3 separate regions of the Homo sapiens genome follow, and regions 2 and 3 are each linked to region 1. Evidence: fine-mapped expression QTL. A gene starts in region 1. Each other region holds a variant in brackets. All regions are shown on one strand. Distances are between the middles of the regions.

Region 1 (2,759 bases):
CGTGGCTGATTGAGCATAATTCTAACCTCTTCTCCCACCTGGTGGTACCAGGAGATTGTCTTCATTTTAAATTTTATTTATTTATTTATTTATTTTTTTGAGTCAGGGTCTCACTCTGTTGCCCAGGCTGGAGTGCAGTGGCACAAGCACGGCTTGCTGCAGACCTCCTGGGCTCATAAGATCCTCCCACCTCAGCCTTCCAAGTAGCTGGGACTACAGGTTCACATCACCACGCCCAGCTAATTAAATTTTTTTTTTTTTTAATAGACAGGGTCTCGCTGTGTTGGCCAGGCTGGTCTTGAACGCCTGGCCTCAGGCGATCCTCCCATAGTGCAGGGATTATAGGCATGAGCCATTGCACCTGGTCAATAGTCTTTTTTTTGAGATGGAGTCTCACACTGTTGCCTGGGCTGGAGTACAGTGGCGTGATCTTGGCTCACTGCCACCTCCACCTCGCAGGTTCAAGTGATTCTGTTTGCCTCACCTTCCCAAGTAGCTGGGATTACAGGTGCCTGCCACCACGCCCATCTAATTGTTTTGTATTTTTAGTAGAGATGGGGTTTCACTATGTTGGCTAGGCTGGCCGTGATCTGCTCATCTCAGCGTCCCAAAGTGCTGGGATTACAGGCGTGAGCCACCACGTCTGGCCCGTTTTTTTTCAAACATTCCCCAAACTGAGGGTCTGACACGCCCGTTGTTGACATCATGGTCCCCCACAATGGCTGGGTGTGTGGGTGGTGTGAAAAAGCCTCCCAGTAATTAAGTTCCTGCCCCTATGTTTAAGATCACTTTGGCTGATCACTTGTCAAGTGCTGGCCACATAATGTAAGGTTTCTGAAAAAAGAGATCCCAGATGGCTCTCCAGAGCTTGCAAAGCTCGAGCAGCCCCGCCACGCTGGCTGTGGCAGACAGGATAGGGCTGAAGCTGGATTTACAGGAGGGCAACCTGTGCCCAGTGTTTACTGACCCGTCCCCGGAGGCTTCTCCCTCATGGGGAGGAAAGCTGGTCACATTCCTCGTTCCTTTCTTAATGTGACCTAACAATAGGCACAGCTATGTGTAACTTCCCTTCAGTAACTTCCTTCAGTCCAGGGAACTTCCCTTCAGTCCAGGGGATCTGGGCAGTTCTTAGCAGTCTGGAGCAGCTGGGCTGAAGCCTGACTTCACCCTTCCTTTGTAGAAATCTGCTCTTTTCCCCCGAAAAACATTTCCGAGGATTGTGGTGCCTGGACTAGCATTTAGCATGGTACCTGGACCGTGGAAGGTGCTCAGAAATGCCACTCCTCCTTCTTGAGTAACACATTTGTGTAGTTTTCAAACAGTCTTGGTGACCTTGGGGCAGCTCGGGGGGTGAGCAGCAGGAGTTTGGTAACCTGCCACCATATAGGTGTCTGTGATCACATTGGTCCCTAACCAGCATGAATGGCAGCCGAGGCAGGGGTTGTGTGCTCTTTGCTAAGTGGGAAAACCAGGTCTCAGAGCAGTTGTGATCACCCAGAAAATGTCACCTGGCTGGTGAGTGGAGGGGCTGGGGGTTCCAAAGTTCTCATCTGTGTCTGCTGTGGATGTGGCCAGGGTCTTCAAGTTTTAGGGGATCAACTGAAGTGTGTTCTGTGGAACACTAGTCCTGTGAAATGCCCTGTTCAACAAGGTTTGGTGATTTTCTGGTGGCTCAGACCCCAAATTTAGGAGTATCCTTAATTGTCTCACCAGCAGGTATTTATTGGGTGTCTACCATATGCCAGCCATACCCAAACCCCTGTCCCCCAGAGCAGTTATTCAGTGGGGGAAGCACCAAATATAAGCTACAGAGTGTGGTAGTTCATAGATGGAGACCAGGGGTGGAAGTGAGCAGGGGAGTGGCAGTGCTGGGAGGTGGTGTCTTTAAAATAGGGTGGGTGGGAAATTAAGCATGGACTTGAAGGTGAAGAGGAAAGGAAATAGGCCGCTATGTAGCGCAGAGGCCCCGAGGCAGGAGTGCAAATGAAACAAGTTGGTGGGCGTGGCTGAAGTGGCTTACATAAGGGGCGGAAGACATTGAGGTTGGGTGGGCTAGGTGGTGGAGAACCATGTAGGCCATCAAGTTTGGGCTTTGCTCTTGAAGAATTTGGAGGGCTATGGGTGCAGGTGTGGCGTGAGTGTGATCAGACTCTGGCTTTGCAGCCTCTGGCTCAGCTGGTGGAGACAGCAGGAGAAACGGCCAGAGGCAGGAAGCAGCTGGAGGAGTCTGGTTTTTTTTGTTTGTTTTAAGCTAACGGTCTTACTGGACCAGAGGGGTCTTGGAAAGGAACTGAGACCCTTAGTGTGAGGTGCTGCTCTGTGCCACAGCTGGCGTAGACACAGGGCACTGGCCCGATGGTGACAAAATGCCCCTGGCCATTGTCACTGTCTTATAGATGAAGAAACTGAAGCACAGAGGCATAGCACTTTGCCCCACGGTCCCTGGTCTTTAAGACAGAGCTGGACTGGAGTCTGAGGGGCTGGGCTCCCTGCCCTTGCAGGTCTGTCCTCTGCCTCCTGGACAGAGGTGGGCTGGGCCTGGGACTCATGACCCTGCAGCATCTGACCGGCTGACCCAGTGTCCTAGAAAGAACCATTCTTGTCCCAGGTGCATGTAATTTATTAATGGAGCTTTGACAGTCACAAGTTCCAGCAAGTCAGGGGTGGGGGCTGCAGGGTGGCCTCTTGCCCTGTAACCACAGTCATCAAATATGCCTCGCCATCTTTGAGGGGCTTTCCTGAGATGACAGATTCCTTTC
Region 2 (2,759 bases), 140 kb after region 1:
ATTTAAGTGTCTTTATTTTATTTTTTTTGAGACGGGGTCTTGCTTTGAGTCAGTGTCAGGCTGGAGTACAGTGGTGTGAACACAGCTAATTGCAGCCTTGACCTCCCGGGCTCAAGCGATCCTCTCATCTCAGCCTCCCTAGTAGCTGGGACTACAGGTGTGTGCCACCATTCCTAGCTAATTTTTGTATTTTTTGTAGAGACAGGGCTATGCCAAATTGCCCAGGCTGTTCTCGAACTCCTGAGCTCAAGTGATCTAACTGCCTCGGCCTCCCAAAGTGCTGGGATTACAGGCATGAGACACAGATTTGGGATTTGTCCTAAGGGTGGGATTAGTGGACAAAGAGCATGCATAGTTTAGATTTTGATACAACATATATATTGCTGAAATATCCTCTAGAAAGAACATACTGATTTTTCTTCTTAGAGGCAGGGTTTCCCTATGGTGCCCAGGCTAGTTGCAAACTCCTAGGCTTGTCATCTTCCTGCCTCGGACTCCCAAAGTGCTGGGATTACAAGTATAAGCCAACTTTTTTTTTTTTTTTTTTTTTGAGACAAAGCCTCACTCAGATACCCAGGATGGAGTGTGGTGGCACAATCATATCTCACTGTAACCCCGATCTGGACTCAAGCAACCCTCCCCGCTCAGTCTCCAGAGTAGCCGGGACTACAGGTGTGCACCACTATGCTTGGCTAATTTTTTTCTTTGTAGTAGAGACAAGGTCTCACTATATTGCCCAGACTCAATTTCTATTCCTACCGAAAGTACACAGGTGTGTTTACCACATATTTGCTAAAACTGTGTTTTAACAATTTCCATAATTTTGACAAATCTTATCAGTGAAAAAATAAAATACTATTATAATTTTATTTGCAATTCTTTGATTACTAATAAAGTCAAAGATCTCTTTAGGCTTATCAGCCAGTCTGTATTTTATTTAGCCATTTTTCTGCTGAGATATTCTTTTGTTTTCTCATAGATTCTAGGAGTTCTTTGTAGATTAAGGAAAAGTCACTAGAAGAATTTTTACTTAATAGAAATAAAGCATCTAGAGAAAGTGTTCTTTTCACTATACCACAGGGTCCCTCTGAAAAGACACAGACTTTCAGGCAACAGAAAGAGAGCCTTAGATAAGGCAGAGAAATCAGAGGTGTTTTCGAAGGTCCAGGCAGATATCCTGATATGAGAAAGGTCTGGATTTGGGAGGCTTCACAGATGTAGAATCACAATATTCAAGCTACAAAGGACCTTAGTGTTTCCTAAAACTCATGGCTTTCTTGGTCCCATATCTTTGCCCATGTTACTCACACTCAGTGACTAAAGCTCAGCAAAAATTTTACATTTTCTGTCAGAAGGCTTTGCAGAAAAGGGCTGGACAAATTTTACCATCTCCCTATCTCCTATAACATCCTGTTCACATCATATCACCATAATTATTTATGTAAGCTCTTTATGGATGGGGGCTTATATTCATTTTTAAAATCTTTACTGTTTAACACAGTGCCTGAAATTTAATAGAGGCTCAATATGAGTTTCTGAGTGAATGAAAAGAAGCACACAAGTAATATTCCTATTCTTTCTTGGACTAATAAAATAATACCTGGGATATAGTTCTGAAAACTACACTTTGA[G/C]AGAGAGCAAATCTGAGTTTAAATGATTACCTAGTGATGGTAAACAGACCCAAAACCACATCACCTGAGGACCAGGTGAAGGAACATGAACAATTAGCATGAGTAAAAAAGTGAAGTCTCAGAGCCATTCCCCATCCATCCAACAAATATTTATAGTGTGTGTCAAAGCACTGTGCTGAGTGCTGGACATATAACTGTAATCAAAATATCATCCTTAACCTCACAGAGCTTCAGTCTAGTGACAGACAGAGAATCTAGTGAGGGACAGAGACTAAACAGTCACCACTAAGATAATGTGATAAGTGCTACACTGGAGAGACAGAGGGTGCTACAGGAGCACCCAGAGTGCTTGTGGAAACTTACCAAAGAAAGCTCTAGGCTTCTAAGCTAAAGTGTAAAAGGATAAGCAGGAGTCAAAGAAAAAGGAAACTCTTTTTGTTTGTTTCAGACAGAAAGAAAGGCATTATAAAGGCCCAGACATGAGAAAAAGCAGTTCTAAATGCAGATCTTTTGGTATGGCTGCTGGGTGGAGTTTACAGAAAAAGTAGTTTAGAAAAAGGTTACAGATAAAGGCAGTGTTCAGTCATTAGCGAGCCAAATATACTGTATTACTGAGAAGAGGAAGTCTTCAAGCGTTTGGGGTGAAGTCATTCTGGCTGTAGTGTAAAGAATGGGCAGGAGGGTGATAGGGCTGGAGGCAAAAAAGACTAGTTAGGAAGCTGTTTTAATAATCTAGGTGTGAGATTCAACTATGAAAGCGGCAGAGTGGCAATGAGAAGGCAGTCCCTAGAGCTTCTCTCTAAAAATCAGGGCCAGTAAGTGAAAAATAGGCTAACCCTGTTTCATATGGCCAGAAAGTCAGAGGGATGACTAACAGAAATTACAAAAAGAGCAAATTTTTGACCAATAAATATGTCTAAATATGAAATGAATTACGTGAGGAGGTTCTAAGTCCTCAAAAACTTGAGGAGTTCAAGATAAGACATTTTACAAAAAATTCAAAATGTTGAGTTTTAAATGCTGGGCAAGGGTAGATTATTTTATGGTCTTTTCCAACTTTGAGATTCCACAGATCTACTGAATTTTATTTCAGTTTGCTATTTGGAGCTGCTCCTTATGCTAGATGGT
Region 3 (2,759 bases), 26 kb before region 1:
TGACTTGAATTTTAAAAGATCACTTTGACGCCATGTGTGGAGTAGATAATGAATATTCTTCTGCGTGAGGCAAATGAATATCCTTGTGCATGAGGCATTGCTGTAACTGGAGTAACCTGGAGTTAAACAGTAATCTTCACCTTTTAGGAACTTGCCATCTGTGCCCAACAACTATGATTTTTGAAGTGTTGAGCAATTGCTGGCATTCTTTGAGCATTGACATGGCAGGCACTTTACCGAGCATTTTACAGGTGCTGTCTCACAAAATTTCCACAGCTTAACAGGTGGGGAAAACAAGCTTAAAATGGTTCTATAATTGGCCCAAAGATCCACAGCTAACGAGTCATGAGACTAAGGTTTGAATCCAGACATTCTGACCCCGGGTGCTGTGCTTCTAACCACTCTGCTGTGCTGTGCTGGCTCACTGCAGTGGATTGTCTACCCTTTGGTAAACTGGAAACATATGGAACAGGGTCCCAGAAGTCTCTTGTTCCTGGAAGTGCACTGAAGTGTAATGTGCCTACCTTCAGCTGTGAGCAATAGGGTTGGCTATACTGGTGTGTGGCCAAAAGGGTAGACTCTGCACAGGGGCACGTGCGCCTGTGTGGCTCAGGACACTGCTGTCAGCCTTGCTCTGTTGCAGGGCTTCCAGCAACAACTTAGACATCTGGCTGCAGGAAGTGTGAGCTCAGAGATTTGTTGAGGCCAGTTAAAGGGGGCCTCAAAAGTATTTTTATGACCCTATTGCTACTCTCTCCAGGCAAAGAGTGCTGCAGTTTGTTTTCACAGTAAGTGCATTTGTCTCAATCAATGTAGATGGACAAGCGTAAGTTCCCTGTTTGTTTTCTTTTTCCCAGTTGTCCCTCATATCACAGATGCAATCCAGGAGTGGGTGATGAGACAGGCGTTAATACCTGTAGATGAAGATGGCCTGGAACCTCAAGTGTGTGTTATTGAGGTTTGTATGATTCCTGCACATGTGAACAAGTGTACTCATCTCCTTAGTCAGCCATCAATAACTGATAAGACAGTTCCCAGTGGAGCCCTTGGCCTTCCTATCTCTGGTGCAGTATGTTGCAATGTGGCAGGTAAGGGCACAGTTAACAGTCATGTGGAATGGCCACGCAAGGGAAAACCGTAGTTTGCCCAGTGTTCCTTTTTTGTAGCATTTATGGTACAATCACTTAGTACTGATTGTCCCCATGAGTAGTGTGACACATTTTCATCTGTCTCTTGAGCAAGTCAGCAGATCTTTTGCTTTCGTCT[G/T]GCAAGAGCATTCGTCTCCGAATGAGCTTCATTTGGTTTCAGTATCTGTACTCCTGCTGTGCTGATCCTAGCTGTTGGATCTCAGTGTTCCTCAGATAACAGGAGACTCAAAAGTTCCAGCAGTTTGTTTATAACTAATACTTTTTTTTTGAGACAGGGTCTCACTCTGTCACCCAGGCTGGAGTCCAGTGCAGCAGTCATGGCTCACTGCAACCTTGACCTCCTGGGCTCAAGCAGTTCTCCTACCTTAGCCTCCCAAGTAGCTGGGACTACAGTGCGCACCACCATGCCCGGCTAGTTTTTGTACTTTTTTGGGAGAGGCAGGGTTTCGTCATTTTGCCCAGGATGGTCTCTAACTCCTGAACTCAAGCCATCTGCCTGCCTTGGCCTCCCAAAGTGTTAGGATTACAGATGTGAGCCACCGTGCCCAGCCAACTGATGCTTTTTCAGTACAAAAATTATTTATGGTTAACTAAGGAGATAAGATTTAGGTTTTTCTTTTTTTTTTTTTTTTACTTTGTCACTGTGATAGAGATAACATTCCTGGCACCTCTCTCATCTGACCTTTTTCTTGAAATGATGTGGAAAGTTCCATAATAACCTTTGGGAAGGATGAGCCTGTCCAAAAGAATAACCTTTTAGTACAAAGAGTTGTCTAATTCCTGTTAACTGTTAACTAACATTATACAGGGTTAGAGAGTCCGTGTTACATAATTACTGATACTGAATCAGGAAGACAGAACAGTTGTTAGAAAACTAAACTGCCAGAGAAGGGTTTAGTGCCTAACCTCTGAAACAACTTTGTTCTTCTAGCTTGGTGGAACCGTGGGGGACATAGAAAGCATGCCCTTTATTGAGGCCTTCCGTCAGTTCCAATTCAAGGTCAAAAGAGAGAACTTTTGTAACATCCACGTCAGTCTAGTTCCCCAGGTAAGTAAGACATTGAAAGTTTTACTTTGGGGGAGATGGAGAGGAGGGAGGAAAGGTAAACCGGAATGATTTTCACTCATTGTCTAGTAGTTTTCACTTGAGGTGCAGGAAGCAGAGAATAAAGAACTTTGTAAGTTTAAATTTGTTACAATCATACTTTTTTGAAAAGATCAAATAGAAAACATTTGAAAAATCAGGGCAGTTGCATTTGCAGATGTAGATTGGCCGTGTGCATTTGTCTTTACTATATGGTGGAACTAGAGTAAAGAGGCTGTTTTTAAAGACAAATCTTGTGGAGAGGAGTCAATAGTAACAAAAATTGGGAAGCCGGAAAGCAGATGGATGCATAGAACCGACTAAGCTGACCTTGAGTGCCGGATCTTAAGCCCGCAGCAGTGAAAGCAGAGAAGCAGCCCTGTTTGCCCTGCAGAACCCCAAAAGCTCAGGAGTGGGATGAGGGTGGGCCTCATGTAACTACTGCTTCAGAAGACTCAGACCCTGACATCTTTTTCCTACAGTGCACAGTTGGGCGTTAGCCTCCTCCCACCTTGGCAGAAGACTGG

Alleles and levels. Positions count from the first base shown, and alleles are read on the strand shown. Sizes are in standard deviations (SD) of each study's normalised expression. Not every link is listed here.
For the expression in ovary of the gene that starts at base 1,598 in region 1, allele G in region 3 goes with a higher level than allele T (small effect, 0.37 SD a copy in GTEx).

What was found.
Region 2: its variant is fine-mapped to the expression of SLFNL1-AS1 in whole blood (TOPMed, PIP above 0.99).
Region 3: its variant is fine-mapped to the expression of SLFNL1-AS1 in ovary (GTEx, PIP above 0.99).

The regions. Positions count from the first base shown.
Region 1 is chr1:41,012,993-41,015,751 of GRCh38, forward strand. SLFNL1-AS1 (SLFNL1 antisense RNA 1) reads left to right here and starts at 1,598. Exons shown (of 4, transcript NR_037868.1): 1 at 1,598-2,759. It overlaps SLFNL1 (schlafen like 1), which reads right to left. Exons shown (of 6, transcript NM_144990.4): 6 at 2,605-2,759.
Region 2 is chr1:41,156,425-41,159,183 of GRCh38, forward strand. All of the region lies in intron 4 of SCMH1 (Scm polycomb group protein homolog 1), which reads right to left. Among named protein-coding and RNA genes, the nearest start is that of SCMH1, 85 kb to the right of the region's middle. RefSeq lists a silencer at 215-404. The variant G/C (reference allele first, on the strand shown) is at 1,632.
Region 3 is chr1:40,986,515-40,989,273 of GRCh38, forward strand. CTPS1 (CTP synthase 1) reads left to right here. Exons shown (of 19, transcript NM_001905.4): 4 at 858-958; 5 at 2,080-2,196. Among named protein-coding and RNA genes, the nearest start is that of CTPS1, 8.2 kb to the left of the region's middle. The variant G/T (reference allele first, on the strand shown) is at 1,267.